Linked DNA regions of Homo sapiens: regions 2, 3 and 4 are each linked to region 1. Evidence: fine-mapped expression QTL. A gene starts in region 1. Each other region holds a variant in brackets. All regions are shown on one strand. Distances are between the middles of the regions. Region 1 holds the start of TNFRSF10D (TNF receptor superfamily member 10d). Region 2 overlaps TNFRSF10D (TNF receptor superfamily member 10d). Region 3 overlaps TNFRSF10A (TNF receptor superfamily member 10a). Region 4 holds the start of CHMP7 (charged multivesicular body protein 7).

What was found. PIP is the estimated chance that this variant, and not a neighbour inherited with it, causes the effect.
Region 2: its variant is fine-mapped to the expression of TNFRSF10D in whole blood (TOPMed, PIP above 0.99).
Region 3: its variant is fine-mapped to the expression of TNFRSF10D in whole blood (TOPMed, PIP above 0.99).
Region 4: its variant is fine-mapped to the expression of TNFRSF10D in whole blood (TOPMed, PIP 0.97).

The regions. Positions count from the first base shown.
Region 1 is chr8:23,160,748-23,168,852 of GRCh38, reverse strand. TNFRSF10D (TNF receptor superfamily member 10d) reads left to right here and starts at 4,826. Exons shown (of 9, transcript NM_003840.5): 1 at 4,826-5,067. The coding sequence starts at 4,918. RefSeq lists a silencer at 200-380 and an enhancer at 4,969-5,088.
Region 2 is chr8:23,137,232-23,145,336 of GRCh38, reverse strand. It overlaps TNFRSF10D (TNF receptor superfamily member 10d), which reads left to right. Exons shown (of 9, transcript NM_003840.5): 6 at 248-279; 7 at 702-887; 8 at 7,077-7,149; 9 at 7,334-8,105. The coding sequence ends at 7,467. Among named protein-coding and RNA genes, the nearest start is that of TNFRSF10D, 23 kb to the left of the region's middle. RefSeq lists an enhancer at 20-747. The variant G/T (reference allele first, on the strand shown) is at 3,835.
Region 3 is chr8:23,214,832-23,222,936 of GRCh38, reverse strand. All of the region lies in intron 1 of TNFRSF10A (TNF receptor superfamily member 10a), which reads left to right. Among named protein-coding and RNA genes, the nearest start is that of TNFRSF10A, 6.2 kb to the left of the region's middle. RefSeq lists enhancers at 3,178-3,237, 3,418-3,487, 4,518-4,717. The variant A/G (reference allele first, on the strand shown) is at 4,173.
Region 4 is chr8:23,239,980-23,248,084 of GRCh38, reverse strand. It overlaps CHMP7 (charged multivesicular body protein 7), which reads right to left and starts at 4,448. Exons shown (of 11, transcript NM_152272.5): 1 at 4,241-4,448; 2 at 1,091-1,829. The coding sequence starts at 1,389. RefSeq lists enhancers at 583-632, 1,436-1,685, 4,255-4,756 and a silencer at 906-1,415. The variant G/A (reference allele first, on the strand shown) is at 4,573.

The DNA.
Region 1 (8,105 bases):
TCAGCACTTATGGGAGGCCAAGGTGGGTAGATCACCTGAGGTCAGGAGTTTGAGACCAGCCTGACGAACATAGTGAAACCCTGTCTCTGCTAAAAATACAAAAATTAGCTGGGCATGGTGGCGGGGGCCTGTAGTCCCAGGTACTCAGGAGGCATCACTTGAACCTGGGAGGCGGAGGTTGCAGTGAGCCGAGATCATGCCATTGCACTACAGCCTGGGTGACAGAGTGAGACTGTGTCTCAAAAAAACCCAACAACAACAACAAAATGACAGTCATTATACTAGCATCCTCCCCACCCCCTCATCCCCAGATCCACTGGAAAAATGGAGGAAAGTCTGGTGGGGACACTCCTTTAGCCCACTCGTGTGGAGTAGGGGCACACACCAGTGAAGGTGTGGAAGCCAGCCCTTCATGCCTGTGTCTCCCCCCATTTTAGACAATCAATGTTTCAGTTGACTGTTCCGCTTCCCTATCAAATTATTACTCTAAGGAGGATATCTCTCTGCCCATTGCTAAACATTATGCACTGAACAGCCTGTTTCTCGGTCCAAGGAAGTTCGGTTTAGTGGTCCAAACTAGAATAATACCTTCTTTCAGTTCTTTTATATTAATAGCACTCTGGGCATTTGCAGCCTCCACCAGGTAAGGAAAAGACAATCCACAGTCAGTTTCTGTTGCTGTCGAGACTCACCTGTACCCCCCAGGGCACTGCCCTCAGTCTCACTTTCCAAGTATGTTGAGGGCCTCCTCATCAGGGAATCTGCCTCATAGCTATAGGCAGTCTCTGTCTCTCCCGCTGCTAGACAGAACAGCTCTTATTGGTGTCATGTGCCTGAGAGAGAGCAAGAGGAATGTGTTTCGATTCAGCCCATCTCTGCGTCACTGTGGTTCCCCCATATCCACTTCTTTTGCTTCGTGGCCTCTGGTGACCACCTCAAGGGAGTACACGGGGGTATCTCTTGCTGATTACAGTCACTTTCTAAACCTGAGGGTGGGTTCTACTGACCAGCATGGGCGTGTCTTACTTTAATGCACTCCTCAAGCTCCCCTAGAGATTTCCATAGGGTCGGGCCTCATATGGACATCCCTACACTAGGTCAGTTTCCCCTTACTCTTGGAAACAATGGAAAATGTAGAGACGAATATCCAAATTTAATACCCTTTATTTGGAAAGTAAGAATTGCAATTCTTGGCATACACAAAGACCAAGTTGTCTTTGGTACGTCCAAAGAACAAAGAGAAGTTTGGAAGTTTTTTTTTTTTTTTGAGACGGAGTCTGGCTCCGTTGCCCAGGCTGGAGTGCAGTGGCGTGATCTCCGCTCACTGCAAGCTCCGCCCCCTGGGTTCATGCCATGCTCCTGCCTCAGCCTCCCGAGTAGCTGGGACTACAGGTGCCCGCCACCACGCCCGGCTAATTATTTTGTATTTTTAGTAGAGACCGGGTTTCACAGTGTTTGCCAGGATGGTCTCGATCTCCTGACCTCGTGATCCGCCTGCCTCGGCCTCCCAAAGTGCTGGGATTACAGGTGTGAGCCACCGCACACGGCCAGATGTTTTTTTTTAAATGAGAAATACTAAGTATTTTTTTTTGCAGAAAGTTCATTGGCGCTGTAAAATTTGAAGAAGTGGCATGCTCTGACTGGTGAGTGACTGCAGTGGGTCAGGCTGGTCTTAGAGCAGCAGCTGGTTGTGTCAATAGATATAAGACAGAACTATTAATAGTTTCACGTTACAGCTGCCAGACTTACAGAGAATTGCAGTTTGGGGGTAATACAGTGATTTTTCTTCCCCATGGCCTCTTGACTCTGTTTTAGTTGGGTGTGACAAGAATGACCCAATTTGTGCGATCAACTTTCACATTCTCCTTCCCAACTCTATGACCGGGACATTGACGACTGTCCATGAGCCAGAAAAAAACTCAAGTACAGGGGCTTTTGCTGCTGTTCAAATCTTCCATAAGGCTAGGAAAATAGCATGCAATCCAACCCACCTAGCCAATTTGCCTTTGCCTTCTTCCATCAGAGGGGTGGCCTTCCAAGTAGGATGTTGTCCATTCATCTAGGAATGACTGTCTACAAACTAAGTAGCTCTTGGTCAGTAAGTAAAGAGCTGTGTATAGGGCAATGTCCAAGTGACCACAGAATCCAGCAGCTCCTCACCCAGTTCCAGACTCAGTCTGAGGGGAACAGAGGCTCCCTGCTCATGAGTGTCTCCTCTTTGCCTTCCTCAGGCACCAGGATCCCATATCAACCATTTCCATTTTTTAGGCTGAGTGAGGTGGCTCACGCCTGTAATCCCAGCACTTTGGGAGGCTGAGGCGGGTGGATCACGAGGTCAAGAGATCGAGACCATCCGGGCCAACATGAAGATCCCTCGTCTCTACTGAAAATTCAAAAATTAGCCAGGCGTGGTGGCATGTGCCTGTAATCCCACCTACTCGGGAGGCTGAGGCAGGAGAATCGCTTGAACCCAGGAGGCAGAGGTTGCAGTGAGCCTGGATCGTGCTGCACTCCAACCTGGCAACAGAGTGAGACTCCATCTCAAAAAAAAAAAATCCATTTTGTAATAGAACTCTTCTGGGACTGGCCTCCCCGTTAGAGCTTTTCCAAGATTCCTGAAGACATCATCAGTTTTTCAGGTTTCAAGATTATTTTATGTCCTTCAGTGACAGGGGAGACTTCAGTTAGTGTTCCATCTCAAGCTAGTAAGTGCCTCTTAAGTGGAAACTTGACTCTAAAGGCCCAGTTCCTTGGAGGTGCTCACAGCCTTTTGCCATTAGCCCTAGTCAGTGCTCCACACAGGGCACAGAGAATGCGTTGTTACCTGCAGTCTGGTTTCTGGTCTATACTGTGTGGTCCACCCTCCAGGGCCAAGGGAGCTAAGGTGCTCTAAGGACTTTCCTGCAGGCCCTGGTGGCTCTGTGTTAATGCTGTCAGTCTTCCTGAAGTCCCTGACCTTTCACCTCCTGCCTGGATCTGCACCCCGCACACATTCCTGACCCCACACATTTCTCATTGCCTGGGTCCTGGCACACATTTCTGACCCTAGCTCAGTGTCTGGGGCCTGGCACACATTTCCGACCCTAGCTCAGTGCCTGGGGCCTGACACACATTTCTGACCCTAGCTCAGTGCCTGGGGCCTGACACACATTTCTGAGTCTAGCTCAGTGCCTGGAACCTGGCACACATTTCTGACCCTAGCTCAGTGCCTGGAACCTGGCGCACATTTCTGACCCTAGCTCAGTGCCTGGGGCCTGACACACATTTCTGACCCTAGCTCAGTGCCTGGGGCCTGACACACATTTCTGAGTCTAGCTCAGTGCCTGAAACCTGGCGCACATTTCTGACCCTAGCTCAGTGCCTGGGACCTGGCACACATTTTTTTTTCTTTTTTTTTTTTTTCACAGAGTCTCGCTCTGTCACCCAGACTGGAGTGCAGTGGCACGAATCTCGGCTCACTGCAACCTCCATTTCCTGGGTTCAAGCAATTCTCCTGCCTCAGCTTCCTGAGTAGCTGGGATTACAAGTGCCCGCCACCACGCCCAGCTAATTTTTGTATTTTTAGTAGAGATGGGGTTTAACTATGTTGGCCAGGCTGGTCTCGAACTCCTGACCTCTTGATTCGCCCACCTCAGCCTCTCAAAGTGCTGGGACTACAAGCGTGAGCAACCGCGCCCGGCCCTGGCTCACATTTCTGACCCTAGGTCATTGTCTGGGCCCTGGAAGGTGCTCAGGGTGATCCATCGCTCAAATCCAAGCCTGTGGAGAGGATGACATTTCATTCCCAGGTTTCTCATGAGCCAAAAAACCTTCATTTCTATAGCGCTATCCTCTTCTATCTACCATGTGAGGGGTCAGGAGCCGACTCATCCCAAGGGTCTAGGAGTCCTGCCATTGACCTTACTGCTTAGGGTCACAAGCTGGCACCCTTCAAAACCACACATTGGGTCTGCCCTCACAGCGGCAGTGTGTTCAACTGGATGGGGAGGTAAGTAGCCCAAGGTCAGACAGTTGGACCTGGGTAGACAATAGACTTGGGGACAGACTTTGGAAGGCACTCCCCTGATTCCCCTGTCTCCATGGGGCCTCAATACTAGAGCCCTCAAGGTTGGTCAGGGAGTGTTTGTGCTTTGACCATGCAAAGGGTGCCAGGTTGTGGCTAGGGATGCCCCCGGCGTTCCTCTCCCTCCTACCTACTCCTCAGCCTCTGCAGGTGCCTGTCATGGCCTCTGTGTCCTTCATTCTGTCCACTCATGTGTTCACTGGGCCCCTCCTTGGTGCCAGGCACCCGCTACTGAGGGATACCAAGCCCCTGCCAGAGAAGCTTGGAGCTGGGTCACAGCAGCAAGGAGGCTGGAGACATCAGTGGCATCAGTGCACTGGTCAGTGAGGCCGCTGTGGGAGGAGGGAGTGGGAGCAGAAGCTAAGAGTGGACTGAAGTCCTGAGGCCAGGAAGTAGTTCAGGGTTTAAGAAGAGGAGAGACAGGCGGCCCGGGGAGGGAGCAGGCTCAGGATGGGCCTCCAGTGCCTCCTCTGGAGCTCACTACCCAGACTACAGCAGCGCAGCGGGCAGCGCCTCAGCTCCTTCCCCTTCTGCTGCCTACAGCCTGGACAGGACCCGGAATCAAACCGCAGGCCCTGGGTCACCGCTGCCGGAAAGAGCCAGTTCCTGTCCGTCCATGCACCCACCCACACAACCTGGGCCCTCCTGGAGGTGCTGGGGGAGACCCAGCCTGAGTGCCTGGAAGTGACTGCGGGAAGGGAGTACAACTGACCACGCCTTTTTTCCGGGGTATAAAAGCGGAGGAGCACGTTCTATTCTGGCAGTGTAGCTGCGAGAACCTTTGCACGCGCACAAACTACGGGGACGATTTCTGATTGATTTTTGGCGCTTTCGATCCACCCTCCTCCCTTCTCATGGGACTTTGGGGACAAAGCGTCCCGACCGCCTCGAGCGCTCGAGCAGGGCGCTATCCAGGAGCCAGGACAGCGTCGGGAACCAGACCATGGCTCCTGGACCCCAAGATCCTTAAGTTCGTCGTCTTCATCGTCGCGGTTCTGCTGCCGGTGAGTCTCCGCCGCGGTCCCTGGCTGGGGAAGAGCGCACCTGGCGCCGGGAGTGGGCAGGGAGAGAGGGGGACACGGTGGGGATGCTTGGCCCGGGTCGCCTGCGGCCGGGCATGTCTGGGCAGGACGAACCCGCCGTCGGAGTCAGGGGAAGAGTGGGGTGCCCGGGCTGGGCAGGAGCGACCGGGCCGCGAGGGAGCAGAGCGCGCGCTCCCCCTGGCTGTCCCGTGCGGCGAGGACCGCACTGAGCTGCCCCAGAGGAAGTTCCAGAATCAGCGGAGGGAGGGAGTCAAGATGGAAACCCCGGAGTGAACCTCAGGAAGCCACAGAGCGGTTGCCTCTTTCGTTCGTTCGTTCGTTCGTTCGTTCATAACGTTAACCCAGGCCGGTCGCGGTGGCTCACGCCTGTAATCCCAGCACGTTGGGAGGCCGAGGCGGGCGGATCACCTGAGGTCAGGAGTTGGAGACCAGCCTAGCCACCATGGTGAAACCCCGTCTCTACTAAAAATACAAAAATTAGCCGGACGTGATGGCGGTCGCCTGTAATCCCAGCTACTCGGGAGGCTGAGGCAGAAGGAGAATCACTTGAATCCGGGAGGCGGAGGTTGCAGTGAGCCGAGATCGCGCCATCGCACTCCAGCCTGGTCAACAAGAGCGAGACTCCGTCTCAAAAAAAAAAAAAAAAAAAAAAAAAAAGTTAGCCAGGCGTGGCAGCCTGCGCCTGTAGTCCCAGCTACTCAGGAGGCTGAGGCAGGAGAACTGCTTGAACCCGGGAGGCAGAGGTTGCAGTGAGCCGAGATTGCACCACTGCACTCCAGCCTGGGCGACAGAGCGAGACTCTGCCTTAACAAAAACAGACAAACAAACAAACAAAATTAACCCTATGTTTACACTGTTACACGTGTTTCTTGGAGATCAGTTTAACAAACAGCCTGTGAAAAAGCTTTCCAACGCTGTTTTTTGTAACTTTCATTTCCTATAGAACCCTGAAAGTGGCAGGAAGCGGTTAACCAAGGTGCTTGCAGTCAGTGTCTTCCACTGCCACCCGTGTGTCCCCTCTGTATCCCATAGGCAGGACCGCGGGATGGCCCCTTCCTTAGGCATAAAAGATGTAAAGTTCTCGTTGTGAGTTGGGTTTGGAAACTGAGATTGGTAGTGGGGTGCACAAGAAGGACATAAAAATAAGATGTGCAGACTGCCAGGACTTTTTCTGAGTGACTGACGTTTCTGCCAACAGTGCTTTCTAAGGTTTCTTACGTAATACCAAAAAACAAAACGGGGAGGATAAAACAAGATTACATGAACCATGAGAGTCTCCATGTTTTCTTTCAACGAAGTAATACTAAATTCAGAACAGCAGTGACATTTTCACCTCTCAAAAATTACACAACTGACTTCTACAATAGTTTATAGTGGGTGGACCTACCTGAGGCAGCTAGAAGAATGGCTGTGTCAGGACAGTGGCCCTGAAGAGAGAATGTGTGGATGACCTGTGTAGACAAGACCAGCAACCTGAATTTCACAGTTTTGGGAATGTGAACTCTATGCGTCCCAAAGGAGGCTTTGATCCCTCCATCAATCTTGCCTTATTAAATGCATTTCAATGCACAGTTGCTTTTTAAAATTTTGGAGCTAGCACAAATCACATTAGATGTTTTATGGCAGTACATTCAGATTGATTTTCTTTTAAACAAGGGTATTGTATTTTACTACATGGGTAAGCCACAGGTTAATTCACTGTTGCCATCTAGAGGCAGCTGGTTATATCCCATCCCGATGGGATATAACCCAAAGCAAATTTGCCTTTGCTAATTCCAACAGCATTGTACTAAATACCCTTGTATGTATCGTGTGTCCACATGTCCATGCGCACCAGCTTATTGGGCAACTCCTTAGAAGTAGAATTTTACTTCTACTTCCGTGGGATAAATCATTTCAGAAGTTTCTTTAGATGTTTACGAATTTTCTTCCAAAAGACCATTGAACTCAGCTTACACTCACACCTAGTTCACACATGTGCCTGTATCCCTACACCCTTGTTACACTTAGCTTTCATTCGTTGCTAGTCTAGGAAGTAAAAGGTGATTCATCACATTGTTATGTACTTTCATTCCTTAATGGTATTAGGAATTTTCAAGGATACGGGAGTTTTGGTAGTGGGAGTAGATGACCGGGGGATCCAGATGAGACAGCAGGGGAGGGTGGCAGGGAAGACTGAATTCCCAGCTGTGAACTTGGAGAACCGTGGTCAGCTGGGGCCAGTCCCTGCCACCTGCCACGCCTGTAAATGGAGATAAGGTCTCCATCTTCAGGCTGTCAGGAGGACATCAGATGAGCCTGGAGCTGAGCTCAGTTCCTGACCCCAGGTCCTGGCTCTGTCAGCGTTGGACTGTTCCAATCTGTGTGACAGAGGCTTCCGCCCCGCCCTTCTCTTTATCAAAGTAGGAATCGAAAAGATCCAACGGCCCAGAATCTCGGACTCTGAGGCTCTCAAGGACTCCTGAGATTGGAGGCTGGGAACAGCTGGGCCCTGCTGTGCTTCCCCTCCAGCTCTGTGACACTGGTGTGGCCCCAGCTCCTGCCTGTAAAGTGAAGAGGAGATAAAAATCTTCAGCAGCCCTGTGTAAACCTCAGAGGGCTGTGTTAGCAGGTGTGGGAGGATGAACCACATCCTCAGGGCTGGTGTCAGTCACTCCGGACTGGATCCCCAGGGCACATGTCCTCCACCCAGCAGAGGCTGCACCTGTTCCTACTTGCACCTCCATACCAGGCTCCCTGGCCTTGGGGCAGAAGCTTCTGAAGACTGGGGTGGAGCACCATGTGGAGGGGCCATCGAGGAACAGAGGAGCCAGAGTTCAAGTGAGGACAGCGATGGCACTGCAGGGCCACAGCCTGGTTTACCTGCCAAGTTTCCAGTTGTGCTTCTGGTGGGTGTCCGGCCCGGGTTGGAGTTTGAAGATGAGCAGGAAAGGTCTCCATCCAGGTGGCTGCAGATGGCTGCTCACCCAGCCCCTACTGAGAGGCCACGGTCCCAGTTC
Region 2 (8,105 bases), 24 kb after region 1:
GGGATTTATTCAGCCTTGGTCAGAGCAGAACACAGAGATTTTCCACGTGTTGGTTTTTACTCTAGTTCCCCTTCTCATCCCCCTTCCTCAGGGTGTCCCCTAATTGCAAGGCCCCATTCTGTCCCCAGCCCCAGGGCTCCTTGTCCAGTGTCCCAGCCCCCAGCCAGCCCTGCGCCCCACTGTCCTCTGGGAGGGAGGTGCTGCATGGGCCCCTCCCCGCCTGCTCAGGAGACTGCTTCTTTTCCAGGTGGTGGAGGAGGTCCCGAACGTGTGCACAGAGTGAGTTGGTTTCTCCAGAAACTGGGGGCTTCGTGGGTTCAGGAACTGCTTCCCATCCACTGCCGAGCCTGGGTGGGCACAATCCCTTGTCCTCATGGCTGCCCTGACTCTCTGACATGGCCTGGGGGATCTGGGCTGACTGTGGGGGACACACGGCCATTTTGAGCAGCACACAGACCAGCAGGCCGTGCTGCAGCCCTGTCCTTCCTGCAGCCTCGGTGACACCATCACTCCACAGCTGGCCCCATGGGGATGGGGTGACCACCTGACCCACCTCAGCATGGGGTCCTGGATGTGCTGAGCCTCAGCTGCCTGGGGTGACCTCATTGGAAGGGGTTGGGGATGGCAGGTCCAGCTGTGTACTGGGGACCCTGAAGCTGAGCCCGGGGTGTGGACTTGAGTGGGCTCTTTGTCTTCCCAAGGTCCTTTTCCGGCGGCGTTCATGTCCTTCACGAGTTCCTGGGGCGGAGGACAATGCCCGCAACGAGACCCTGAGTAACAGATACTTGCAGCCCACCCAGGTCTCTGAGCAGGAAATCCAAGGTCAGGAGCTGGCAGAGCTAACAGGTGTGACTGTAGAGTTGCCAGAGGAGCCACAGCGTCTGCTGGTGAGTTGAGGAGGGACTGTGCCCTGCCTGGCGTGCAGCCTGCACAGGACTTTGTAGACAGTGGGACATGGCAGTGCCTCCTCTTTCCTGGCCCAAGGGGACATGGAGCCTTTGGGAGACAGGGGACTGCAGGGGACGGAGCAGCTGCACTGAGGTGGTGACCGTGCCAGTCTGCAGGACATCTGCTTCTTACTCCCTGTCCTGTCCTTGCTGTGTCCCCAGAGCCTGGATCTCCACAGGCATAGAGTGGGTGTCACAGGGTTCACTGAGGACTGAATAAGGCTGCACAGTCTCCATCGTGTGCTCCTAACAGAAGTCAGGGAGCCCTTGCTTGAAACAGCGGAAGTTTTAAATGTTCTTCAAAATTCTTACTACATTGAACATATTTCACAGTAAATCTTTGTCCAGATTTCTGATCAAGTATGTAAGGAGGCTTCTGGGAAGAAGTAGGATTTCTGAGTCAGTGTGTAGAAGTGCTTTTGTATTACAGAAACACACACATCCAGTTATTCACATCGATTCACTAGTTTTGATATGACATTGAGTAGGTGTGAAATCTGGACACACATTTGTTTTTTTTTAAGTTCTTTCCTTCAGGATAAAATAAGATGATCCTACCTAATTTTTTGTGGACTTTTAAAGAATGATTTGGTTTGTAGCATACACCAGTGGAACGTAGGTGCCATTTCTTTTGTGATGCTGTGTGAAGTGAGGAATTCCCTGAATTGTTGTGAGTCACTGTCTCCTTCCTCCACGCCTGTTTAGGAACTGATTCTCCTATTTTTCTCTGCTTTTGGCTCCTCTTTGATCACTTGTCAAATACTTACCTAGACAAGGTTCACTTTCCACCCATTTTCTTCCTTTCCTATAACTATACCCCATTTTTTTTAATGAAGGGAAGTATAAAAAGGTAAGGAAATAAACAAAAAATATCAACAATTACTCCACGCTGCTGAATCGCATTGCACCTTTGTTTTGTAATTTGTAGAGATCTGATCTTGCTATGTTGCCCAGGCTGGTCTCAAACTCCTGGCCTCAAGTCATCCTCTCACCTTGGCCTCCCAAAGTGGTGGGATTACAGGCATAAGCCACTGCACCTGGCCGCGCTGCACATTTTTTGAAAGTGGTAAATGCAGAGCCACACATCTGCCACACTATAGAAAGGTGCTCAGTCGGCCGGGCGCCGTGGCTCATGCCTGTAATCCCAGCACTTTGGGAGGCCGAGGAGGGTGGATCACAAGGTCAAGAGATGGAGACCATCCTGGCCAACATGGTGAAACCCCACCTCTACTAAAAATACAAAAAATTAGCCGGGCGTGGTAGCGGGTGCCTGTAGTCCCAGCTACTCGGGAGGCTGAGGCAGGAGAATGGCGTGAACCCGTGAGGCGGAGCCTGCAGTGAGCCGAGATCACGCCACTGCACTCCAGCCTGGGCTACAGAGTCAGACTCCATCTCAAAACAAAAACAAAAACAAAAAAAAAACAAAGGTGCTGAGTCATAGTGGTAGTCCCCTAACACTTCCTCCAGCCCCCAGCCCTTCTTCATTCAGGTGAATACAACAGATAATTTCTTGTGATTCTTTGTAGAAATCTTTATGCATATGCCATGTATATTCATACAAGCGTATGTACATTTTGTTTACATTACAGGGATTACTTTACATATAATACACTGCCAAGGAAACTTTTTTTCATTTTTTATTTTTCCTTTTTCAAATTTATTTTGATTCAGGGGGTACATATGTAAGTTTGTTTGATGCTGAAATTTGAGGTATGAATGATTTTATCCAGGTTGTGGGCACAGTATCCAACAGTTAGTTTTTCACCCCTTCCTCCTCTCGCTCCCTCCCCGCCCTGGTAGTCCCCAGTGTCTATTGTTGCCATCTTTATGGTCGTAAGTACCTGATGTTTAGCTACTACTTATAAATGAGAACACGCAGTATTTGGTTTTGCGTTCCTACATTAATTCACTTAGGATGATGGCCTCCAGCTTCATCCATGTGGCTGCAAACAATATGATTTCATTCTTTTTTATGGCTGTGTGGTAACCTATGGTGTATATATGCCACATTGTCTTCATCCAATCCACTGTTGATGGGAACCTAGGTTGATTCCATGTCACTGCTATTATGGATAGTGGTGTCTTTTGGTAGAATGATTTGTTTTCCCTTTTTTTTTTTGAGAGGGAGTCTCGCTCTGTCACCCAGGCTGGAGTGCAGTGGCACAATCTCGGCTCACTGCAACCTCCGCCCCTCCAGGTTTAAGCAGTTCTCTGCCTCAGCCTCCAGAGTAGCTGGGATTACAGGCATGTGCCACCATACCCGGCTAATTTTTTGTATTTTTAGTAGAGACGGGGTTTCACCGTCTTGGGCAGGCTGGTCTTGAATTCCTGACCTCGTGATCCATCCACCTCGGCCTCCCAAAGTGCTGGGATTACAGGTGTGAGCCACCGCGCCCAGCAGATTTGTTTTCTTTTCTATGTATACCCAGTAGTGGGTTTGCTGTGTTAAATAGTAGTTGTTTTAAAATTCTTTGAGAAATCTCCAAACTCCTTTCCATACTGGCTGAACTAATTTACATTCCCACCAAAAGTATATAAATGATCCTTTTTCTTCATAGTCTCGCCAGCATTTACTGTTACTGGCTTTTTAATAATCGCCATTCTCACTGTATGAGATGGTATCCCACTGTAGTTTTGATTTGCATTTCTCTGATGATTCATGATGATGAGCATTTTTTCATATGTTTGTTGGCCACTTGTATGTCTTCTTTTGAGACATGTGTGTTCATGTCTTTTGCCCATTTTTAATGGGGTTGTTTTCTGTGTGTTCATTTAAGTTGCATATGGCTCCTGAATATTAGACCTTTGTCAGATGCATAGTTTGTAAATATTTTCTCCCATTCTGTAGGTTGTCTGTTACTCTGTTGATACTTTTTTTTTTTTTTGA[G/T]ATGTACTCTCGCTCTGTCACCTAGGCTGGAATTCAGTGGCATGATCTCAGCTCACTGCAACCTCCGCCTCCCGGGTTCAAGTGATTCTCCCTCCTCAGCCCCCCTAGTTGCTGGGATTGCAGGCACGTGCCACCATGCCCAGCTAATTTTTGTATTTTTAGTAGAGATGGGGTTTTGTCTTGTTGGTCAGGCTGGTCTCGAACTCCTAACCTCAGGTGATCTGCCTGCCTCGTCCTCTCAAAGTGCTGGTATTATAAGTGTGAGCCCCCACACCCGGCCTGTGGAGAGTTTCTTCTGCTGTGCAGAAGGTCTTTAGTTCAATTAGATGCCACTTGACAATTTTTGTTTTTATTGCATTGCTTTTGAGGACTTAATCATAAATTCTTTGCCATGGCTGATGTCCAGAGGGGTGTTTTCTAGGTTTTCTTCTAGAATTCTTATAGTTCATGGTCTTACCTTTAAACTTTTAATCTACCTTGAGTTAATTTGTGTATATGGTGAAAAGTAGGGGTCTAGTTTTCGTTGTTCTGCATATGGCTAGCCAAATATCCGAAGCATCAGCTGTTGAATGGGGAGTTGTATTATTCCATTTTCATACTGCTATGAAGAAATACTTGAGACTGGGTAATTTATAAAGAAAAAGAGGTTTAATGGACTCACAGTTCCACATGGCTGGGGAGGCCTCACAATCATGGCCTGAGGTGAAAGATGAGCAAAGGCACATCTTACATGGCGACAGGCAAGAGAGCGTGTGCAGGGGACTGCTCTTTATAAAACCATCAGCTCTTGTGAGTCTTATTCACTATCACAAGAACAGAACTGGAAAAACCAGTCCACGTGATTCAGTTACTTCCAATAATTTTTTCCAATTCTGTGGAAAATGACATTGGTAATTTGATAGGAGTAGTATTAAATCTGTAGATTGATTTCAGCAGTATGCCCATTTTAGCCATATTAATTCTTCCAATCCATGAGCATGGAATGTTTTTCCATTTGTTCATGTTATCTATGATTTCTTTTAGCAGTGTTTTGTAATTCTCTTAGAGATCTTTCACATCCTTGGGTAGAGGTATTTCTAGGTATTGTGTGTGTGTGTGTGTGTGTGTGTGTGTGTGTGTGTGTGTGTCTGTTGTAAATGGGATTGTGTTATTGATTTGGTCCTCAGCCTGAACATTATTGGTATATAGATATGCTACTGATTTTTTTTCTTTTTGAGACAGAGTCTTGCTCTGTCACCCAGGCTGGAGTGCAGTGGCGCGATCTCAGCTCACTGCAAGCTCCACCTCCCAGGTTCACGCCATTCTCCTGCCTCAGCCTCCCCAGCAGCTGGGATTACAGGCGCACACTGCCACGCCTGGTTAGTTTTTTGTATTTTTAGTAGAGGTGGGGTTTCACCGTGTTAGCCAGGATGGTCTCGATCTCCTGACCTTGTGATCCGCCCTCCTTGGCCTCCCAAAGTGCTGAGATTACAGGCGTGAGCCACCGTACCCAGCTACGCCCCGTTAATTTTTGTATTCTTTAGTAGAGACGGGGTTTCACCATGTTGGTCGTGCTGGTCTTGAACTCTTGACATCGTGATCCGCCTGCCTCGGCCTCCCAAAGTGCTGGGATTACAGGTGTGAGCCACGGTGCCCGGTGCTACTGATTTTTATACATTGATTTTGTATCCTGAAATTTTGCTGAAGTCGTTTATTAGTTCCAGGGGCCTTTTGGTGGAGTATTTAGGGTTTCCAAGGTATAGAATCATATCGTCCATGAAGAGTTTTCACTTCTTCATTTCATATCTGGATGCCTTTTCTTTCTTTCTCTTGCCTGAGTGCTCTGACTAGGACTTCCAGTACTATGTTGAATGGGAGTGGTGAGCGTGAGCATCCTTGCCTTGTTCCAGTTCTCAAGGGGAATGCTTCCAGCTTTGGCCCATTCAGTATGATGTTGGCTGTGGGTTTGTCATAGATGGCTCTTACCATTTTGAGGCATGTTCCAATGGGAACTTTCTAATGTTTTTTAACATCCAAAAGAGCAAACACCTCTTCCATACTTTTTCAAAATGTATTATTTTACCCAGATAAAATTTAGAATTAAAAGATTTCCTCCATCCTTCCCTCCCGAAAAACCTCAGTTGCCGTTTTATCAATTCGCTTTAAAATTAAAAATTAATCTAGAAACACTGAATATTTTATTAATATTCAGTATTTCCTTATCAAAGGAGATAACATTTGGTGTCAAGTATTTTATTGTAACTGAGTTGTGATTTGTGTTCCTCTTCAAATAAATTATTCCTGTTTCTTATGGCTGTTTAGTATTTTGTATCCATTATGAGTTGGATAACCTTGTAATTCTGTTTGCTAATTTATTGCATTTGCTATGTTTTTAACATTCCTCCAGACATACATTTCTATTTCAATATTGTAGTTTCATCTTAGGGGTTTTAAATGACGTTGAAAATAATGATTATTGTGTCTGCCCTCTTCCAAAAGTCTTGCCTCATTTTAATTTTCCATCTTGTTGCCTAGGCCAGACCTTTCAGAACAATATTCAGCTGTGCTTAGGGAAGGCAGGTGTTTGGGTCCTGATTTGATTTCTGGGGAAGGCCTCCAAAGTGTCACTCTTAGCAATGGCATTCACTTTTGGTTTCATATAGAAATTCTCATCATCAAGAACACAGCTTACTATTCTAAAAGGGTTTGAAAAAAATCAGAATTGCTGTTTAATTTTACCAAATGTCTTTCCAGCCTCCATAGAGACTGCCATTTTATTTAATTACGCTATTGATATGGTAGAGTACTGATGATCAAAGATCATTTACAGTCTTGGGATAAATCATTTTGTTAGGTTTTCCTGGGTGCTCTCATATATAGTCTGCCGAGACTCTGCTGGTAAGAATTCTGGAAGGAAGTGATCATTTCTTGTGAGGGTGGGTGGGAGTTGATTAGATGGGGCAGAAGGGGACTTTCTGGGGTGTGGCAGTTTCTATGTCTTGATCAGGGGATAATTACACAGGCCTATAGTCAAAGTTGGTCAGAACACTTACAAAGTGAGCATTTACTGCATGTCACTTATGTCTCAATGAGCCACCAGCACACAGAGCCCAAGAGCTATGGAGGACCAGAGGTTTGTCTCCATCTCCATGGAGACCCAAGAGGGAAAGCGCTGCAGGTCTCTTGCTGGCTAGTGGTCAGGGTCAGTACTAGACTGCAGGACTCCTGACTCTGACCAGAGCATTCCCCACTGTGTGTTACAGGAACAGGCAGAAGCTGAAGGGTGTCAGAGGAGGAGGCTGCTGGTTCCAGTGAATGACGCTGACTCCGCTGACAGTAAGTGTTTTGTGCCTTGAGACGCAGCAGGAGGACAGGGAATAGGGACGGTGTCCTAACTGCTGTCCCTATAGCTGAGAGGGCTCTTCTGGAGGTTTCACTGCTGGAAGCAGGGGGCCCCATGTCGATCCTGTGCTGATCGTCCTTGGAGCATTGAGACCCTAAATCTCTTCTCTCTTCTCAGTCAGCACCTTGCTGGATGCCTCGGCAACACTGGAAGAAGGACATGCAAAGGAAACAATTCAGGACCAACTGGTGGGCTCCGAAAAGCTCTTTTATGAAGAAGATGAGGCAGGCTCTGCTACGTCCTGCCTGTGAAAGAATCTCTTCAGGAAACCAGAGCTTCCCTCATTTACCTTTTCTCCTACAAAGGGAAGCAGCCTGGAAGAAACAGTCCAGTACTTGACCCATGCCCCAACAAACTCTACTATCCAATATGGGGCAGCTTACCAATGGTCCTAGAACTTTGTTAACGCACTTGGAGTAATTTTTATGAAATACTGCGTGTGATAAGCAAACGGGAGAAATTTATATCAGATTCTTGGCTGCATAGTTATACGATTGTGTATTAAGGGTCGTTTTAGGCCACATGCGGTGGCTCATGCCTGTAATCCCAGCACTTTGATAGGCTGAGGCAGGTGGATTGCTTGAGCTCGGGAGTTTGAGACCAGCCTCATCAACACAGTGAAACTCCATCTCAATTTAAAAAGAAAAAAAGTGGTTTTAGGATGTCATTCTTTGCAGTTCTTCATCATGAGACAAGTCTTTTTTTCTGCTTCTTATATTGCAAGCTCCATCTCTACTGGTGTGTGCATTTAATGACATCTAACTACAGATGCCGCACAGCCACAATGCTTTGCCTTATAGTTTTTTAACTTTAGAACGGGATTATCTTGTTATTACCTGTATTTTCAGTTTCGGATATTTTTGACTTAATGATGAGATTATCAAGACGT
Region 3 (8,105 bases), 54 kb before region 1:
GGGGAAGGACAGCTGGATTCTGCCCATCAGGGGAAGGGGTGGGGAGGATGGCAGGAGGAGGGGGATGAGATCCGGAAGGGAGACGGGGAGGGGCCAGGTTCATTCTAACAACCAGGTGTCATGGGGAACTAAGATTGACAACTCCTGGGGGAATGTGGGAGGGGGCGGTTATGGCACCAAGCCTTTCATGAGGGATCCACCCCAAACCCCAACAGGCCCCACCAGCTACATTACGGTTCAGATTTCAACGTGAGCCCTGGCAGGGACAAAGGACCCGTAGCAGACACCAAGGCCTTCTGCCATCCCACAGGACCCTCTCATCCCACCATCCCTCAGCCTTCTTCCTGTGCATTTATAGGCACCTTAACTTTTAAAATTCTGACTGAAGAACAAATCGCATTGGATGTTTTCTATCAGTACATGCAAGTATCTCATTCTTTTTAACAGCATCATAATATTTAGTGCATGGGTGAAACACATGGCGTGAACCACAGTTAATTTTAATCTTCCATCCCATGGGCAATTGTTAACATTATGTCCTGCTTTTGTTTTTTCTAATTCCAGCAGCATTGTAGTGAGAACCCTTGTATGTGTCATATGTCCATATGTCAATGTTCCCTGAAGTATCGGGCAGCCCTTTAGAAGAGGAATTTTTAGGTACATGAGCTCATCAATGTAGAATTTTGTTTGGATATTGCTAAATTGTACTTCGGGAGAAGATTGTGCCAGTTTTACTCTCACACCAAGAATACAAAAGTGTGGCCGGGTGCGGTGGCTAACGCCTGTAATCCCAGCACTTTGGGAGGCCGAGACAGGTGGATCACGAGGTCAGGAGATCCAGACCATCCTGGCTAACACGGTGAAACCCCGTCTCTACTAAAAATTGAAAAAAATTAGCCAGGCACGGTGGCGGGCGCCTGTAGTCCCAGCTACTCGGGAGGCTGAGGCAGGAGAATGGCGTGAACCCGGGAGGCAGAGCTTGCAGTGAGCCGAGATCTCGCCACTGCACTCCAGCCTGGGCGACTGAGCGAGACTCCGTTTCAAGAAAAAAAAAAAAGAATACACAAGCGTGCCCGTGTCCCTGCACCCTTACTACATGGAACTTTCATTCTTTGCTACTCTAAGAGGTAAAAAATGATAGACCTCAATGTTGTATTTTTTGTTTCAGTGTTATTAGAGATTTTCAAGGATCCAGGAATTTTTTGAGACTGGGAGTAGATGACCTAGAGACTCCAGATTAGACCGTTGGGGAGGGAGCAGGGAAGACTGCAGTCGCACCTCTGCACTTAGGAAACTGTGGTCGGCTGGGGCCAGTTCCTGCCACCCGCCATGCCTGTGAATGGAGATAATGTCTCTGTCCTCAGACTGTCAGGATGACATCAGATGAGCCTGGAGCTGAGCTCAGTTTCTCACCCCAGGTCCTGGCTCTGTCAATGCTGGACTGGCCCAATCTCTGTGCCAGGTCCTTCCACCTCGTCTCGTCTCTCTCTTTATCAAAGTAGGAAATGAGAAATTCTGATGGCTCTGAAGCTTAGACACTCAGGCTATCAGAGCCCAGAGATTGGAGGCTGAAGACAGCCAGGGTTGGCCGTGCTCCTCTTCAGCTCTGTGACTCTGCTGTGGCCCCAGCTCCTTCCTATAAACTAGGTGGATATAAAAGTCTGCAGCGGCCCTGTGTAAACCACAGTGGTCTGTGTTGGCAGATGTGTGCTGTCGTGTGGGAGGACAAATCACATGCTCAGGGCTGGTGTCAGTCACTCAGGACTCTGGATCCCCAGAGCACCTGTCCTCTACCCAGCAGAGGCTGCACCTGCTCCCACCTGCACCTCCATACTGGCTCTCTGAGCTTGGGGCAGAAGGTTCTAAGGAATGGGGTGGAGCGCCATGGGGAGGGGCCGTGGAGGAACAGAGGAGCCAGACTTCAAGTTAGGACAAAGATGTCACTGCAGGGCCACAGCCTGGCTTACCTGCCACGTTTCCTTCCAGTTGTCCTTCTGGTGGGCACCCGGCACTGGTTGCAGTTTGAAGAGTGAGCAGGAAAGGTCTCCATCCATGTGGCTGCAGATGGCTGCTCACCCAGCCCCTACTGAGAGGCAACAGTCCCAGTTCTGGTCCTCTGTCCTGTATCCAGGAGTGACAGGGCAGCAAGGCTTTAGCTTCCAGGTCGGAGATGGGGACAGTGCCATGCCCTGAGCCTGTGCTGTTGGGCAGTTGGTGTCACTTAGTCTGGAAAAATGCCAGTGCCTTCAGTTCTCTTTCAAGTTCATTAGGACAGGTGCCCTGGGGATCCAGAGTCATGAGTGACTGACACCAGCCCTGAGCATGTGATTTGTCCTCCTACACGGCAGCACACATCTGCCAACACAGACCACTGTGGTTTATAAAGGGCCGCTGCAGATTTTATATCTGCCTAGTTTATAGGAAGGAGCTGGGGCCACAGCAGAGTCACAGCTGAAGAGGAGCACGGCCAACCCTGGCAGTCTTCAGCCTCCAATCTCTGGGCTCTTTGATAGCCTGAGTGTCTAAGCTTCAGAGCCTTCAGAATTTCTCAATTTCTACTTTGCTAAAGAGAGAGGTGAGGTGGAAGGACCTGGCATAGAGATTGGGCCAGCCCAGCCAGAGACTGCACATCTTCATTCAGGGTATTTTCCTAACCCAGGGATGTGGGGATTGTTGCTCTCATTTTGTCTGGGGAGAAAATGAGATTTAGGAGGAGGAAGTCCCCAGCATTTGGGACCTGGCCTGCTTGATAATAGCAGCTGCCTGTTGGACTGGGAAGGGCCTCTTCCGGATTCCCAGGCAGGTATCTGTGATAATGGGGAAAGGAGAAAGGGTCTGCTTTGTAGGGAAGAGCAGGGTGCACTCGGCACCTCAGACACTCGCCTGTGGCCAGGAGGGGATGTGAATCATCACATTTTACAGAGGAGAGGACCAAAGCTCAGAGAGGGAAAGTGTGTGCAGCTCAGAGGGGGAACGTGTGTGCACCTGGCCACAGGCAAGTCTGTCCAGAGCACTGGTAGGAATGAGAGAAACTAGGAATGACCACTTTAAAAACTTAGATGAAGAGAATCTCAAAGTTAAGTCATTGGAGTTTGTTGGTAATATATTTGTGTGGCTTAGGTCATGTTAAGTGCATCACACCCTCGCCCCCATGTCTGCTGTTGGTCTCAGCACTGGGTGGAGGGAGCGGGGACAGTCCTGATGAAGAGGAGAGGGGAGCAGCACCGGCTGGGGTGGGGCCTCTGCCGCTGCCTCTTCCTGTGTGGTTTTTCAGGGCTTAGGCTGCGCCTCTCACCTGGCTTGTCTGTGGGGAGGAGATCTTTGTTCTCTGGCTGCTTTTAAGATTTTCTCCTTAACAGTGTGGTTTCAGCACTTCGATGGTGGCAAAAATAATCTGCCGGAGCCATGTCTGTAGCATTTTTGGTCTCCCCTTCTGTATAATAGCAGCCGTGTTTTGGCTTCTGCAGGGCTAAAGTCCTCTGAGCAGCTGCTTCTCCACATCTCTGCCCTGCACTTGGCCTCTGGGAGCTCCTAGGGTTCCTTAGCAGAGTCCACAGGACTCTTCGGGGTCCCATCCCTGTGCTGTAGCCTGGAACCTGTGACCTGAGGCGGTGAGCTGAGGCCACCACTGGGCTCACCTCATGGGCTTGGAGGGAAAGTCACTCACCCAGGAAGTAGGTGATGAGCACTTTACTCTGAGAATGTCTGCGCCTGGTGGTGGTGGGAGGACAAATGAGCCCTGTGTCAGTCCTGCTCCCTGAAGCCCACAGTCTGGTGGAGGAGGTGTCACTAGGGACCTAAATAACTATCAGGAAGCATGGGGGCCACCTCCCCCACCCCCCACCTCCAGAGAGGCTGTGCCGGCTCCAGGGATGCCATCCCTCCCTACTTGACTCCAGCAGTTGCAAGGCCCCAGGTCATGGTATTGGTGGCTTAGAGGATGTGGTTTCATTAAAATCAACATTGAGGGGAATGATTGTACTAACAACAGCATGTGCTGAAATACAGTACTTGCGTGTGCCAAGCTCTGTTCTTAGCACTTCATATGTAAATGAACACACTTAATCCTCATACAACCAGACTGTACAGGAACCCTCATTGTCTTTGTTTTAGACAAACAGCATGAGACTCAGAACATTTGTTCAGTAGAGGGGCTGGGCAGGAGGATGAGC[A/G]ACCCTCGGGGCAGCAGCAGTGATTGGGTCACTGGGTTCTGCTGACCTTTCCCAGGGGAGTATTTGGTGCTTTTTCATGAGGCCTGCATTCACCCAGCGCTGGGTCACTGCTGGGGGTACCTGAGAAGTCATGTAAAGCCACCTCTTATTTCCAGAATGATAGACATGTTTAGAGAAGAAGTGGCTTCCCCCAGACCATGAGGCTGGCCCGAGACTACAAGACAGATGGCTTGCTTCTTAACCCAGGGGTCTTTTTATACCAAAAGAACAAAGAAATAAAAAAGCCACGAAAGACTCAAAGGAAGCAGATTTTCGACCACAGCCAACCTCAGAACAATTCTGAGTTGCTCATTTTAAGATCAATAAGGCATTTTTTTAGGGTGTGTATGCCTGAGAGAGGAAATCAGTGTGAATATCAAACTTACCTCTGAAACAGCCTAACACAATGCTAATCCGAGAGGAACAAGGCAAGGAAACCCCCTGGTGAATGACTCATCTCAGGAAGAGGCAGGGCAGGGTCAGGAGAGTCTATGGAGGAGAAGACCTGGAACAAGACCTCTCTCTCTTGCTCTCTTTCTCTCTCTCCCTCTCTCTCTCTCACACACACAAACACACACACAACCTCACACCCCCATGAGCCCAAATCTGTGAACTGAGAACCTCACTTCTCTGACCTCACCTTCCATCTCCCTTAATCAGACGCCCACAAACCTCAGAGTTGTGTCCCAGCATCACTTGTTTTGACTGCCCTCCCCGACTGCCTTGACTTCGTATCTGCCTAGGAACCTGCCTGTGTGGACTTTTCCCTCTATGTGGACCTTTCCCTCTATGTCTACCGGTGTCCCTGCCACCAGTGGCATTTGTCACCTCTGCCTGGGCAGCCCCTCGTGACTCGGGTTATTGATGGCTGTGCCTCATCTCCCTGGGAACTGGAACTGTCCTAAGGAAAGGGAGGGTCGTGCCTTTTTCTTGATACCCCACGATTCCTTGCACAGCGTTTCTACCAGGCGCCGACATGCCCTCCTTGGATGAATGAGTAACATGGGTTCTAGGAAGCCCGCACCAATGCAGATGTGACGTCCTCAGCCTTTCATAGACATGTTTCATGTGAGAGGTGGGAAGAACAGCTGAACAGAAGGCTGAGCACTGTCCAGGTCCAGAGTCACCAGGAGCTCGTTGTCAGGTTTTCACTTGCTATTAGTAGAGATTTTTTTTTAAGGTACTATTTTTAGTGTTAGAAGTGAATTCAGGCCGGGCGCAGTGGCTCACCCCTGTAATCCCAGCACTTCGGGAGGCTGAGGTGGGCAGATCACGAGGTCAAGGAGATCGAGACCATCCTGACCAACATGGTGAAACCCCATCTCTACTAAAAATACAAAAATTAGCTGGGTGTGGTGGCATTTGCCTGTAATCTCAGCTACTGGGGAGGGCTGAGGCAGGAGAATCACTTGAACCAGGGATTCGGAGGTTGCAGTGAGCAGAGATTGTGCCACTGCACTCCAGCCTGGCAACAGAGCAAGACTCCGTCTCAAAAAAGAAAAAAAAAATGAATTCATCAGAAGGCATAATAATCATAAATGTGTATATGTCTAATAGTAGAGCTTTAAAATAAATGAAGCAACGCTCAAAAGGATTAAAGGGAGATCATGTCACCCCCTTCTCAGCAACTGATAGAACGATCAGATGAAAACAGTAAAATAACAGATCTGAACATTGTCAACCACCTTGACTTAACTGACATTTATAGAGCATATATGCAACATCTATGGGAGATTCCTTCTCTTCTATGAACATGGTACTTCACCAAGATAGACCACATTGTGAACTATAAAACAAATCTAAATACATTTAAAACAAAATAATATAAAATATGTTCTCTGATCTCAATGAAATTAAAGTGTTAAGCAATAACAATATCTAGAAGGACTCCAAAAATGTGAATATTAAGCAACATACTTATAAATAACTCATAGTTCACGAATGAAATCAAAGAGAATTCAAAATATTTCTTTTTTTTTTTTTTGAATTGGCTTCTTGCTCTGTCGCCTAGGCTGGAATGCAGTGGCGTGATCCCGGTTCACTGCAACCTCTGCCTCCCGGGTTCAAGTGATTCTCCTGTCTCAGCCTCCCGAGTAGCTGGGACTATAGGCACCTGCCAGCACGCCCGGCTCATTTTTGTATTTTTAGTACAGATAGGGTTTCACCATGTTGCACAGGCTGGTCTTGAACTCCTGACCTCGTGATCCACCCACCTCGGCCTCCCAAAGTGCTGGGATTACAGGCGTGAGCCACCGTGCCTGGCCTGGAGTTTCTTTTGGGGATGATGATGAAAATCTTCAAAAATTGATTTTATTGATGGTTATACACTTCTATAAATATATTTAAAGGAAAGAATTACATCATATATAAAGTATATCTCAGTAAAGTTCTTAAGGATTAAAAGAAGAATGGTATCAAAATCAATGACTCAGAGGTGTGCATTACTTACCCGTAAAATAAGTATAAATTAAACTCAAAGGTAGTAACAACATGACAAGGAAATAATAAGACTGAAATCAATGAAATAGAATTCAAACAATAAAAGGAATCAACAAGCTAAGAGTTGGTTCTCAGAAATGATCAACAAAATTAATAAAAGTAATAAACTGGCCGGACGAGATGGCTCATCCCTGTAATCCCAGCACTTTGGGAGGCCGAGGCAGGCGATTCACCTGAGGTCTGGAGTTTGAGACCAGCCGGACCAACATGGAGAAACCCCATCTCTACTAAAAATACAAAATTAGCCAGGCGTGGTGGCACATGCCTGTAATCCCAGCTACTCCGGAGGCTGAGGCAGGAGAATCGCTTGAACCCAGGAGACCGAGGTTGCAGTGAGCCGAGATCACGCCACTGCACTCCAGCCTGGGCAACAAGAGTAAAACTCCATCTCAGGAAAAAAAAAAAAAAGTAATAAACCAAACTTTAAAAGAAAAAAAGAACAACAGCATGAAATACCAATATCAAGAATTAATGATGGGATGTTATTACAAACTCTACAGCCATTAAAAGGAAAATAGTGGGATCTTATGAATAACTTTATGCCAATCAATTTGACAACTTGGATTAAATAGACAAATTTCTTAAAAAACACTACTTAGCAAAATAGCCACAAGAAATAAAGATAATTTAAATATTCCTAAAGCTGTCTATGAATTGGAATTCATTGTTTGTTTTGTTTGTTTATTTATTTATTTATTTATTTAGTTATGCTATTTTTTGAGTCGGAGTCTCGCTCTGTCATGCAGGCCGGGGTGCAGTGGTGCAATCTCAGCTCACTGGAACCTCCGCCTCCTGGGTTCAAGTGATTCTCCTGCCTCAGCCTCTGGAGTAGCTGGGATTACAGGTGCCCACCACCACGCCCAGCATATTTTTAGTAGAGACGGGGTTTCACCATGTTGGCCAGGCTGGTCTTGAACTCCTGACCTCAGGTGGTCGCCCACTTTGGCCTCCCAAAGTGCTGGGATTACAGGCGTGAGCCACGGCGCCCGGCCCCCCTGCTCTTCCTTTTCTAATTTAACTTTCTAATTTAAAAAATCTCCCAATTACAGAAAAGATGCAAAAATTATACTATACCCTTTACTTTGAACCACCTGAGAGCAAGCTACCCACAGAACGCACATCACCCTTATACACTTGAGTGGATATTTCCAACAAATAAGGACATTCTCCCGTATAACCACAATACAATCCTCAATATCAGACAGTAAGCATCAGTACATTACTACCAGCTAATCCTCAGACCCCAATGGTTTTCACTTGTCTTTATAATGTAATTTATTGCACAGAAATCCTGTCCTGAATAACTATACTGCTCTTTCATCTTTTTCTGACTCTAGTATTTCATGGGACATTGGCAGGCTGTTTTGGGGGACAGTTTGTAAAGTGCCTTTTTAA
Region 4 (8,105 bases), 79 kb before region 1:
ATCTTAACACTTTGGGAGGCTGAGGTGGGAGGATCGCTTGAGTGCAGGAGTTCGAGACCATCCTGGGCAATATCAATGTCCAGTCCAATGGGAAGGTACTGGGAACAAAAGTAGAGAAGGGAGATCTCTTAATCAGAAAGAGCAGCAAACTAAAAAAAAAAAAAAACCAACCAAACAAAAAACATCAGAGTTGACTTTCTCCTTCCCTCACTGAGAGAGGTATCACGCTAGGCTGGTCTCAGAATGATAAGTACACTGAAGTGCAAATGACTTATCCAAAGACCAGGGATCCAGTCCCGGTATCACCTTTAACTAGCTGTGTAACTCTGAGTAAGTCACTTGATCTCTCTGAAACTCAGTTTCCTCTTCTGTCTGCTGAGGATAATTCTATCACCTCACCACAAGACCGCTGAGTGGGTCAAATGGTGCATGCAAAGTATCTGCATGCTGGGAAGTACTGTACATGTATTAGTTATCAATGTTACCCTCAGATACCGCCAAAACTGCACCTGTCGCACACGTATCTCCTACAGACCTTTTAAGGGCACTCAGATACTCAGCAAAGCCCTCATTCTCCTTCACGTCCTCTCTGCTCCAAAAAGCCTGTGCCAAGGACAAGCCAGACGAATGAGCTGTGCCAGGGGTTGTTGGCAAGATGCCTACAGGCCTCTTCCCCACGAATGCCCGCTTTTTAGCTCTAACCTTCCCTAGGTTAATGAATCCTATCTCTTAGACCTTCTGCTCCACGGGCCATTCAAATTTGGAGGCCCTTAGGAAACAACAACATAACGGGGTCCCAGTCCAGGCAAATTACTGTCACCTCTGTTAGGCTGGCTTCTCTGGAACTCGTCTAATCGGACTATCCCCGCCCCCCAATCTTCCCCCAGATCCCCTCTTCCTCTCCCTCCAAGCCTCCCTAGCCCAGCCTCCTTATTTTCCTTCTTCGCCTTCTGAACACACACTGGATGCCTTCTCTGGGCCAGACACTGGGCTGGGCGCAGTGCGCTGTGCAGAGAACAGGACCAGGGCCCGGCCCTCCGAGAGCTGCCCCCGCCCGCCCTCGCGGCCCTGGCCCCAGCCCGCCCCTCACCGCAGCAGGTCCTGCAGCACCGTGGCCAGCCCCAGCGGGACGCTCCCCTTGCGCTGAAAGGCCTCCTGCAAGTCCCGCAGACGCAGGCGCACCACCCCCTGGCGGCGGCTGTGGCTCAGCACCAACGGCGCCCAGAAGCCCATCTTGCTGTCCCAGTCGGTGCTGTTCACCTCGCGACTCCTCTTGAAAGCGGAGAACAGGAAGGACATGCGCTCCTCGTCCTCCTCCCACTCGGGGGGCAGAAGGCCCGCCGGGTCTCCCCCGGCTGGGGCCTCGGCCTCCCGCTCCGGGGACCACATCGGAACCCCAGCCCCGGCAAGGCTGCGAACACAAGCCTGGCCCTGGTCCGCTTCCGCCCTCGTTCCCTCCCGGCTTCCGTTCCTTGACCACCTCCTTCTCGTTCACACGTCACCGCCGCCCTGAGCGTGAAATAAGTTCCATAAGTCTTCAAGGCGCATGCGTTGCGCTGCGCTCCGTCAGCCAGGAGGCAGTATGATGAAGTTCTTTTCAGAGAGACACCGAGCGCTTGCGCCGACCCCTCCTCCCACGGTCTTTGTGCCGAAAGAAAGGCTTGCGCCTGCGCGGCAGGTGGCTGCACCTTACGTCTCCTTCAAGATTCTGGAGTTCGGCAAAGCGTTGTACAGCGGCTTCTGACCTGTGGCTTCAGAAAATGGAACTGGGGAATAGCCGCAGAGGGGCGCCAGTGGTGCCCGGACCACCCGGATGGATCCGTGAATCTCTGTATAGAGGGAAATTTATATCAATGAATGCACAAACCAGAAAAGAAGAAAGATCTAAAATAACCTAAGATTCCACCTTGGGAATCTATAAAAGAAGAACAAATTAAGATCAAATTAAACAGAAGAGAAAAAATAATAAAAAGAGCAGAAATCAATGAAATTGAAAACAAACTCAAAAGATTATCAACAAAACCTAAAGCTGATTTTTTGAAAAGGTCAATGAAATTGATTAACCTCTAGCCTGGCTAACAAAGAGAAAAAACAAATACTCAATATCAGAAATGAAATAAGGGACATTACTGCAGATCCCATGGGCATGAAAATGATAATAAAGGAATACTATGAATAACTGTATGTCCACAAATTTGATAACCTAGACGAAATGGACACATTTCTTGAAAGCACACTCTGCCAAAACACACAAGAGGAAACAGACCACTTGAATATGTTTATATCTAATTAATTGAATCAATAATTAACAACATCCACACAGAAAGCATTAGGCCCAGATGGTTTCATTTGATAAGTTCTACCAAATATTTAAGAAAAAAGTTGTACCAGTTCTGTGCCATCTCTTTTATAAGATAGAAACAAAAGGAATACTTCCCAACTGATCCTATGAGGCAAGGATTACCCTAACGCCAAAACCACACAAAGACATTACAAGAAAGAAAAAACACAAAACAATATATCTTGTGAATATAGATGCAAAAATCATCAATAGAATGTTAGCAAATTGAAACCCACAATGTATCAAAAGAATTGTACACCAGGTTAAAGCGGAATTTATTACAGCTAGGCAAGGCTAGTTCAATGTTCAAAAATCAATTAATATAATCCACCAACAGACTAAAGAAAAATCATATGATCATATTGCTAGATGCAGAAAAAGCATTTGACAAAATCCAACACCAGCTCATGATAAAAAGTCTCGGCACTCTAGGAATAGAGGGACACATCCTCCACTTGATAAAGAACATAAACAGGAACCTTACAGCCAACATAAGAATTAATGGTGAAAACCTAGATCGTTTTCCAGTGGAATCAGGAATAACACAAGAATGTCTGCTCACACCATTCCTAGTCAACACTGTACGGGAAATCCTAGCTAACACAGTTAGCCAAGAAAAAGAAATAAAAGTTGTACAGACTGAAGAGGAAGAAATAAAATGGTCTGTCTTTATAGAAGACATAATTATCCATGCAGAAAATTATGAAAGAATTGCCAAATCGATGTCCTGGAACTAAGAGGCAATGAGAACAAGATTGCAGATACAAAGTTAATGTATAAAAGTCAATTCCCATATACCTATAATGATCAAGTGGAATATGAAATTAAAAATGCAATACCATTTACATTAGCACCCCCCTATAAAACTTAGGTATAAATCTAACACGGTATGTACAAATTCTACATAAGGAAAACTACAAAATTCTGATGAAAGAAATCTATGAAGGACTAAATAAATACAGAGGCATTTTATATTCATGGACAGGAAAACTCAATATTATCAAGATATCAATTCTTCCCAAATTGATCTGTAGATCCAGTGAAATCCCAGTGAAAATCATGGCTAGTTATTTTGTGGATATCAACAAACTAATTCTAAAGTTTATGTGGAAAGGCAAAAGACCCAGAAGAGCCAACACAATATTGAACAAATAAGTCAGAGGACGGATACAACCCAACTTCAAGAATTACTATAAATCAACAGTAATCAAGATAGTGTGGTATTAGTTAAAGAATAAACAAATAGATAAATGGAACAGAATAGGAATCCCAGAAATAGGCACATGTAAATACAGTCAACTGACCTTTCGAAAAAAGAAAGGCAATACAATGGTTCAAAGAGTCTTTTCAACAATGAGCACTGGAACAACTGTACACCTACATGCAAAAACAAAAACAAATCCAGGTACAGATCTTACACCATTCACAAAAGCCAGCTCAAATGGATCATGGACTTAAATGTAAAAACACAAAACAATAAAACTCCTAGAAGACAAAACATCTAGATGACCTTGGGCATCATGATTACTTTTTAGATACAACACAAAAAGCATAATCCATGAAAGAAATAATTGATAAATTAGACGTAATTATTATTATTATTATTATTTGCTTTCTGAAAGACACTGTGAAGAGAATGTGAAGATAAGCCACAGACTGGTAGAAACTATTTGCAAAAGACATCTCTGATAAAGGACTGTTATCCAAAACACACGAGGAACTCTTAAGACTCAAAAAAAAAAGAAAAAGAATAACCCAGTTAAAACATGGATAAAAGATCTGAGCAGACCTCTCACCAAAGAAGATCTACCAACGGCAAATAAGTATATGATAATATGCCCAACATCATATGTCATTGGGGAACAGCAAATTAGACAAGAATAGCATACTACTACACACCTATTAGAATGGTGAAAATCCAAAATACTGACCACACCAAATGCTGGTGAGGATGCAGAGCAACAGGAACTCTCATTCATTGCTGGTGGAAATGCAAACTGGTACAGCTACCGTAAGGTTGGCCAAGAGAAAAGACGAGTATACTCAAAGTCAGGCAAGCAAGTTTATTGACCTGCCGGCCTGCTGCATAACAGTCAGAGGAGGCAGCCCAGGGTGTTTAAGGTGAGGGACTTATATAGGGCTTTGAGGGCCTAGGGGCTTTCTGAGGTTAGTCTACATCCTGCAGTTGTTTGTCACTTCTTGCCCCACCTGGCTTAGAGTACCAGGATGTG[G/A]TTTGGCCTGGGGGTGGATACAGCTGTACCTAAGTTCTGGTAACGTGAAGTAGGGGCAGCATCTCAGAAGAAATAAGCTGCAGGGCATTTAGGGGAGGGGGCTTGCTGCGTTCTTCTGTGGACAGGTTGTCTCTAAGAGCTACTTTGGAAGACAGTTTGGTCGTTTTTCACAAAATTAAACATTCTCTTCCCATGCAAGTTTACTTATAGTTTAACTTTGAAACAAAGTATAACAGTCCTTTCCCAAAACAAAACTCCTTACTGCCTGTGGACTAGACTGCCTAGACTGCCACAAGATTAGAAGTTATGGTAATTTTACTAAATCAAGATGTAGCTATTTTCATTAAACCAGTATCAATGTCTTATTTATTAATGGTTACACGAGCAGAGATCATTCTGTCTTGGGCTGGGTTTATAGCCTGTGCCAAATTTTGACACCTAATAGTATTTGGCAGGGTTAAGTATGAAATTGCTTGATTAATAAACGCAAATAAAAATGTATGCTGGCAATTCCTAAGACATTTCTAATATTACTTTACCAATAATTTTAAAGATAGCTTATTTATTAAAGATTTTACTTAAGTCACATAACTTGAAAAAGCATTTGACTAGTCTTTCCTTTTTCTAATAAAGTATTTGATGTAAATGCTTTTATTTTTTAAGACAATTAATTAGAGCTCTTTGATATATTTTCAGGAGTGCAACATTGTATACATAACATATAAATACATAGATGTATTAGGCATGCTGATAGAAGAAGTACATCTTACAGATTCATAAAAACCTTTTTTCTTTATCTTAGACTTTCAGATTCTTGATAACCTGTTTCACAGTGCTAGGCAGTAGTCAGCTAAATAGTCTTAAATTTGCATATTAAAGGAAACAACTCAGGTGAAAGTCAGATAGCAAAATTTACATTATAAGGTCTGAAGAGAAATTCTGTGAGCTAGAGGGAAATTAAAACAGATTTAATTGCCAATTGAACATAAAATTATAGAAATTTATCACTGGATTGTATAAGGAGACCACTGTTATTTAGATAGGGACTACCAATTCTTTTTTAACTGGATCTCTGAGCTCTGGGCAGAGCCCACACTGAATCCTGGGTCTCCAAAAAGGGAGAATTATTATGAGGCTAGACCACATGATGCTTTTACAGTGCACTTAAAACATTTTTGTAAACAAAGCATTTCTAAGTGTCTAAACTATACTCTTTCTTAAAAACCCAAGAGTAGCCTCTGTTGCAATAACTATTTTAGTAAAAAAAAAAAAAAAAATCGAGTGGAAACAGAATTGAGTCAATTGAGAACAAAAAAAGTTTTTGCTCAAAAAAAGACAAGGTCCTAGCAGAGAAAAACAAAAACAAAACCATGAAGGCCTTTTAAATATGAACATGCACTTATGCACACATACACATACACATACATTTTAAATATTAGCTTTTAATTAAGTTGACTTTTAACTATTGAGTGTCTTTAAAAATAAAAAATCTTGGGCTGGGTGCAGTGGCTCATGCCTGTAATCCCAGGACTTTGGGAGGCCCAGGCGGGCGGATCATGAGGTCAGGAGATGGAGACCATCCTGGCTAACATGGTGAAACCCCGTCTCCACTAAAAATACAAAAATTAGCCGAGTGTGGTGGCACGCGCCTGTAGTCCCAGCTACTCAGGAGGCTGAGGCAGGAGAATCGCTTGAACCCGGGAGGCAGAGTTTGCAGTGAGCCAAGATCGTGCCACTGCACTCCAGCCTGGCGACAGAGCAAGACTCTGTCTCAAAAAAAAAAAATTCAAAATTTTATTATTATATTTCAGCTAGGACAAATTGCTGCTATTTCAGAAGTACCAAGTATTGGTCCGGCGCGGTGGCTCACACCTGTAATCCCAGCACTTTGGGAGGCCGACGCTGGTGGATCACCTGAGCTCAGGAGTTCGAGACCAGCTTGACCAACATGGAGAAACCCCATCTCTACTAAGAAATTCAAAAGGCACATGCCTATAATCCCAGCTACTCGGGAGGCTGAGGCAGGAGAATTGCTTGAACCCGGGAGGCGGAGGTTACGGTGAGCTGAGACCACGCCATTGGACTCCAGCCTGGGCAACAAGAACGGAACTCTGTCTCAAAAAAAAAAAAAAAAAAAAAAAAAAAGCAGAAGTACCAACTATCAAACCAGAAAGGACTTGATTTAGGAACCAAACTTAGGCTGTCATGAAGACAGGAGAAAAAAAAAGGCAGAACCTTAGCTATTGAACTGCAGAGTAGGGGGACAGCCATTGCTTTCAGTTTGGCCTGGTTAGCAAAAAGGAGGCTTTGTTATGTAAATAAAACCCCTTAAGTAATAAAAATAAAACATTTTTCTTGCCGGCCGGGTGCGGTGGCTCAAGCCAGTAATCCCAGCACTTTGGGAGGCCGAGGCAGGCAGATCACCAGGTCAGGAGATCCAGACCATCCTGGCTAACACGGTGAAACCCCGTCTCTACCAAAAAATACAAAAAAATTAGCCAGGCGTAGTGGCGGGTGCCTTAGTCCCAGCTACTCGGGAGGCTGAGGCAGGAGAATGGCGTGAACCCGGGAGGCAGAGCTTGCAGTGAGCCGAGATCGCGCCACTGCACTCCAGCCCGGGCGACAGAGAGCGACTCCGTCTCAAAAAAAAAAAAAAAAGTTTTTATTTATTTTTTTTCTTTTGTTGGCCGTTTTTCTCCCCTCACTATACCACCTTTTTTTGTGTATGGGAATTTAGCCACTTTAGAGGCCTTGTTCCTCATAATTTGGAACTTTCCTTCGGATTTGATTGAGTTGGACAGAGTTGGTCAAACCCAACGGGAGAAAGACTGAAACAACAAAAACAGAAACAAATAAACATCAACAACAACAAAAAAGTTAAGCAAAACAAACAATCTCACAACTTAACATAATTCCTGAGCACTGTAATGGTAAGGAGAAATAAAGACCAGCTGGTTTTTAATCTTAACTTTAGCCAAGATAAACCCCAATTCAGTTGCTTATCTAGGAATGGATCTCAGGCTGTAGACCACTCTCTACCATCCTAGAAGCAGAAAAACAAACAAAACAACAACAACAACAACAACAACAACAACAAACTCACCTTCCCTGTTGGAAGTGAGCTCAAACTCCATAAAGGAGTTACCTATCTTCCATCATCATGGAAGCAGGAAAACTTGCCTTTCTTGTTGGAAGCAAGTAAAACTCCAAAAAAAAAAAGTTGTATAGCAAAATAAACTTTAGATTTCAACCAAATTTGGGAAGATAGTAATTCTCTTGGTGGGGCGGAGGGGTGAGGGGTGGGTTGCTCTCAGACCTCAGCAAATTGTCCCATAGGTTTGAGCCATAAAGTAAGCTCATGCTGGTACCAAGCACCAATAGGTGCTTGTCAAATCTAGCTTGTCAGAGGCTAGATTTGTCAGAGGTGGGGAGCATTCCACTCAGAATCCCTTTATGGTTATTAAATATGGGCCCAGAATATCTGAGACGGGTCTCAGTTAATTTAGAAAGTTTATTTTGCTGGCCGGGCGCGG